Linked DNA regions of Homo sapiens: region 2 is linked to region 1. The links come from fine-mapping of genetic effects on gene expression. A gene starts in region 1. The other region holds a variant in brackets. All regions are shown on one strand. Distances are from middle to middle. Region 1 holds the start of SLC44A3 (solute carrier family 44 member 3). Region 2 overlaps SLC44A3 (solute carrier family 44 member 3).

Evidence for each region. PIP is the estimated chance that this variant, and not a neighbour inherited with it, causes the effect.
Region 2: its variant is fine-mapped to the expression of SLC44A3 in lung (TOPMed, PIP above 0.99). The same link has a PIP of 0.9 or more in amygdala.

What each region holds. Positions count from the first base shown.
Region 1 is chr1:94,818,899-94,821,808 of GRCh38, reverse strand. SLC44A3 (solute carrier family 44 member 3) reads right to left here and starts at 1,452. Exons shown (of 15, transcript NM_001114106.3): 1 at 1,331-1,452; 2 at 753-860. The coding sequence starts at 1,357. SLC44A3-AS1 (SLC44A3 antisense RNA 1) reads left to right here and starts at 1,577. Exons shown (of 6, transcript NR_160780.1): 1 at 1,577-1,853. RefSeq lists a silencer at 1,259-1,448.
Region 2 is chr1:94,838,889-94,841,798 of GRCh38, reverse strand. SLC44A3 (solute carrier family 44 member 3) reads right to left here. Exons shown (of 15, transcript NM_001114106.3): 7 at 1,762-1,851. Among named protein-coding and RNA genes, the nearest start is that of SLC44A3, 20 kb to the right of the region's middle. The variant A/C (reference allele first, on the strand shown) is at 1,298.

The DNA.
Region 1 (2,910 bases):
TGGTAGTTATTACCCTGCTCTATAAATTAATCATTTACCATGCAGCAAATAGCATGCCTTATCCTGGCATGGATGATTTCGTGAAAGTGGCCTTTGAAAATGTCGGGTGAGACGTTTTCTGCTGTTACCTACAATTCTAAAATAAGTATAAAAGCAGCAAGATTCGGCTTCCAACAGACTCTCTCAGGATTATAACCGCATAGCCTGATGGAGTTTACCAGCAATCATACATACCTCGAAATTAGAGTGGGAAAAATCATTCCTTGTTAGCTATGGTTAACAGTGTTGGCTGCTAAACACAACATATCTCTCGCGCGCGTGTGTGTGTGATGTTCAGCTAAAGGAAATGCAGTTTATTTCTAGGCTTACCCTGGCTTTTCCTTTGTTAAAGGTGCACCAAAAGCTTGAGGAATATTTGATTTGGGGGTGTGGCAGGTGCTAAAAGAACTTCTGTTCAGTAAGTTCGGAGAGTAAAAGGAGACACATTGGCCTTACTAAATAGCAATCACATTGCAAACTGTTAATTCCCATTTCCTAATGGAGTCACCCCTTAGAACATGGCCTGTAGCAAAAAGACAGCCTTTCTAGCGAGTCTAGGACAAGAATTCTCCCGAGTACAAACTGATGTTTATTGTGGGTTAACGGCAGAAGTCTCTCACTGCAGCACCAACTACGATTTACATTTGGGACAGAGTTATTTCCAGACGTGCACACACACTCTGGCCTCTTTCCTACCAAGCACCCACACTTACCAAACCAGTCCAAAAGAGAAAGAACAGGAATAACCATGCCGTATCTGTGCATTTCCTATAAATCTGGGGTCGCCACTCCCTTTGCCTAGGGGCTCCTTCTGCAGAAACCTTCCAGAAAAAGGGAGAGTTGAGAAAAAGAAGATAAACAGGTGGACTCAACCTGGAAACCGAACCCAAATCTACTCGAAGAGGGGCCAAAGTAACCAATCTTTTTCTAAATTTTTAAAATTAATATTATTTTTTTACGTGGCCACCTGAAGCTCTTTCACACAGCCTTTGAAACACCTGCTCTGCGCGGAGCGGATGTTAAGCCCCCTGCCGCCAAGTGCTTACCTGGAGGTGCACCTGAGGACGACCCCAAGTTTGCGCCCCGCGGCCCGCGTCTCCCCCGCCTCCGCCCCAGCACTGGAGCAGGGTCCAGGTTCCTCCCCGCCAGGTGGCCCCAAGGTACTAAGCGGGGGCGGGATCCCCGAGGCGCGGGAAAGGCGGAAGCGTCCGGCAGGGAAGGTGCGTGAAGGCGGGGGACTCGACCCTTCCCCGGGGCTCCTCCCCCGAGGGCCGAGGCTGCGAGCGCTTACCAGGTACTCGGCGCCCAGGCAGTGCATCGTGCGCTCGCCGGCGGGGGCCGGTGACTGGGAGCCGCCGCCGCCTCCTGTACGCGGAGACGCAGCGCCCGCGAGCCGGGGCCGGGGCCGGGGCTGGGGCTGGGGCTGGGGCTGGAGCCGGGGCCGGGCCGGGGAGGGGCGGGCACGGTGCAGCGCCGCCTCCCGTTCGCCTCTGCGCCTGGCCCGGCGACTGCGGGCGCTGCGGTCCACTGGGTCCGCCTCTTCCCGGCATGGGTTTCTGCCCAGCTCACCCGCTGTCAGCTGGGGTCCTGCTCTGGTGGGAGGAAGAGGCTCAGACGCTTCCCTGCCCTCTCGCCTCAACCACCTCGAGGCAGCGGCTCCCAGGATGTGCACTTTGACGACTAAAGCTGAGCCGGCGCCGCCACGACCTTGGGCGGGTGGTCGGCCTCTGCCCTGAGCAGGAAGTAGAAAGTCTCAGCAGACCCTTCCTGAGGGCCGAGCAACAGTGTAGTGGCGTATTCCACATAGCAAACAGGTAAGCAGCATTTACTGTGTGCTGGATTCTGTTCTCACTGCTATTGTTATTCCTAATCTACGGAGGAGGGAAACTGAGGCACGGCCATTGGTGATGCAACTTGTTCGAGGAGACCCAGTAAGTTGTGGAGGCAGGAGTCGAACCCAGACACTCCGGGAGACCGGCGCTCTCGAGGTGGTTTACTCTGACTTCTCTCCCACCTTGCCTTAGGACAATCATTGCCTGACTTCGCAATTGAAATGGTAGTGTCCACTGAAGCGACTGGTGGCATAGTTTTCCAGGTAGTGTCAGACCAGCGCAAAAGCACTGTTGGGGTGAGGAATTTAAAAAACGAAAAACAAAAAAAACTGCAGGCCGACCTCCCCCCACCTCCTCTCAATCAAGCCTCTACCCTTCCCCCTGCCACCCTTAGGGTTGCTAGGTTAATTGCTTCCTTTAGGTGCTGCTTCTCCCTAAGGGTAGAAACCTGACTGGAGGAAAGATCTGGGTAAGTGGGAGAAACTGGGAATGATAGACAGTGGTTCTCTGGTGCCAGCGATTTCCTTCTGGGCTCACACCACCCTCCCACTGCAAACTCACTGGGCCTTCCTGGATGCATGTTTATCAGACAGAGTAGGTGAAACCCCAGGGGAACATGAATTCATAGGACAAAGAATTAGACACTGGAGGAGTGCAACTACTGTTAAAAGACCACAACTGAATAACATATGCCATCTGAAACTGATCAGTAGAGCAGATGGACCAAGATTTTTAAATAAGCATGATAAATTTATTTAAAATGAGTTATGATATTAGCAATATGAATCAGGAAAAAATATGAAACTAAAACATATTAAGCATAAAAATAATAATTAGAATGAATATTGATGCTACGTATTAGTAATGTGCAATAGTCTAAAAGATGCAGCTGACGATGAATTAGTAATTGGAAGAGCACTTTCAGCAAACCTCCAGAGGCAGTAGAAAATGTTTTAAAAAACAAGTTAGCTTATTTGTAAATTTTCTAGCTTATATCTAGGGTAAAACTAGAACAGAAAGGAAGAAATATAAAAACAGA
Region 2 (2,910 bases), 20 kb before region 1:
CCCACAAGTTCTGGGATGATGCTTGTTTTGGGAGACCCAGGATGGTGACCCCAGAACACAGGCACCTAACCCACAGGTTGGGTCTGGATGCGAGCAGGAGGAAAACCCCATGGACAGGATGGTGAGAGGGACAATGCCAGAGCTCACTGTCTAAATGTTTTAAGCAAGCTCTGGTGGTGATAACTCCTGTGGAGCCTGGATATTGGCTGCTCACCCACAAAACCAGGAAAATTTACACGGCCTGTGGGAATCATGGAAGTCAGAAGCTCATTTGGAAGATGCCCTGACATTGCAAGTACTCCACATTTAGGTACGAAATACCACCTTATGCCATATCCACAGTAACTATAGGAAGGTTGGAGTGGACAGGAAGAAACAACCCTCAGAAGTCATTGTGCCTGTCCTCCGACACAGGGCTACAGGGCTCTAAGTTGCTGAGGGCAGAGCTGATGACTCAGGGGAAAGAAACATGACAATCACATCAGTTTTTAAAAATTAAAATATAGTCATCCACTGCATGATGACATTTTGATCAACAATGGACTGCATATATGATGGTGGTTCATGAGATTAATAATACTGTACTTTTCTGTGCTTAGATGTGTTTAGATACACAAATACTGACCATTCTGTTACAGCTGCCAACCGTATTCTGTACAGTAGCATGCTGTGCAGGTTCGTAGCCTAGGAGTAATAGGTTATACCATGTGCCTGGGTGTGTAGTAGGCTCTACCATCTAGGTTTGTGTAAGTGCACCCTGTGATGTTCACACAATGAGGAAATTGCTGAGTGATGCATTTCTCAGAACACATCCCTTCCTGTCATTAAGTGACACCTGATTGTACCCCACACCAGTTGGTAAATGGCTGCTGCCTTGAGCCTCCTGCGTGCCCTTGTCCCTCGGACCTCTTTCCCAACAACTGCTGGTGAGATCCACAATCCAGCAACCGGGAGGGAAATATGGGCACAGTACAGGGTCTCCAGGACTCTGCTTCCATGCAGGCCTGTGTGTCTTCTGGCTGGTCAGAACCTTTACATGACAACTGTGGGCACCCACGTGCCAATGGGTGAGGTGCGCATTCAGAAGAAATCCTTTAAAATGCTCCCAGTGGGTACTGGGATTCTCTTTTAACGTTATGGATACAGGATCACGGTATTGGAAAGCTCATCTCAGGGGCAGCATAGCACAGCAGAAGAAACTACAGATATGGCTGGACGTGGTGACTCATACCTGTAATCCCAGCACTTTGGGAGGCCAAGGTGGGCGGATCGCTTGAGCTCAGGAGTTGGAGACCAG[A/C]CTGGGCAACATGGCAAAACCCCGTCTCTACAAAAAATACAAAAATTAGCTGGGTGTAGTGGCATGTGCCTGTAATTCCAGCTACCTGGGGGGCTGAGACAGGGGGATCGCTTGAGCCCAGGAGGTTGAGGCTATAGTGAGCTGCGTTCGCGCCATTGCACTCCAGCCTGGGCAACAAAGTGAGAGCCTGCCTCAAAAAAAAAAAAAAAAAAAAAAAAGGAAAAAGAAAAAGAAAAGAAAAGAAAGAAGAAAAAAAAGATTGGTCATTAACTTTGCACTGTCTGTGAGACATAGCAACTCCCATCGTCCTCCCTGAGGCCAAGTTTTCTCATTTGTAAAGTGACAGGGCTAGATACTCTTTAAGACTCCATGTAGCTTAAAAATGCCAACTTTTAAGTTCTGTACTTAATGTAAAGGCTTTTCATTTAATCGAAAAGAAATCAGTCAAGTAGAGAAATACTTACACAACAATCCCAAAATAACCAATGAAATGAAAATGTGAACCAGAAGGGTGGTGATGAATCTGAAGGTAAACATCATGGCCAAAGACAAGGCTGAAAAATTAAGCAAAACACATAAACCTCAATAGCAACAAAGGATAGGGGAGATGATGGTAGTACTGCGATGACAAAACCCTCCAGAACAGTGACGGCTGAGGATTGTATTCAATCTCTAAATATCTTGGGATATCTACTAAACACTAAATAAAAATAACAAGGTATACGTGGGGCAGTCTCTGATGCACCATTCAATCAAGTGTGGTAAGCCTGTCTCTGAAAGTCCTAGTATTCTTCTCAAAAATAAAAAAAATTTGGCCGGGCATGGTGCCTCACACCTATAATCCCAGCACTTTGGGAGGCCGAGGCGGGTGGATCACCTGAGGTCAGGAGTTCGAGAACAGCCTGGCCAACCTGGCAAAACCCCATCTCTACTAAAAATACAAAAATTAGCCAGGCATGGTGGCGGGCACCTGTAATCCCAGCTACTCGGGAGGCTGAGGTACAAGAATCGCTTGAACCCGGGTGGCAGAGGTTGGCAGTGAGCCAAGATCATGGCACTGTACTCCAGCCTGGGCAACAGAGCAAGACTCTGTCTCAATAAAAAAAAAGAAAGAAAGAAAAAAAATTTTATAGCAATATTATTCTCAAATGCCCAAATCTTTTTTTCTTACAAGTCCAAATGAACCATCTAAAATTATCATACTTAAATCTTTTGACTTCATACTGGGCTTATGTAAAGTTCTAACTTTACATGTTCTAAGGTACTCTTATTAAATATGAAAGATTAATAATGTCTTTAAAATGAAGAATTTAAGATCCTAACCATGAAATAAGCTGTATGTACTATTTTCGACATAGGAAATCAGGATTGCATCTAGATCAGAGTTATGTTTAGTAAGGTGGGTTTTGGGACCACACAGATCTGGGTTTGAGTCTTAGTTCTGCCACCTCTTCTCCTAGGTGTGCAACACTGGCCAAGTCCTAAACCTCTCTAAGCCTCAGTTTCATCTCCTATGAGTGGTACTGGGATTCTGATGAGGTTTTAATGAGTGAAGAATAAGTACAATGCCTGGCACATGGTAAGTGCTCAGTAAACGACAGCTGTTAATACCA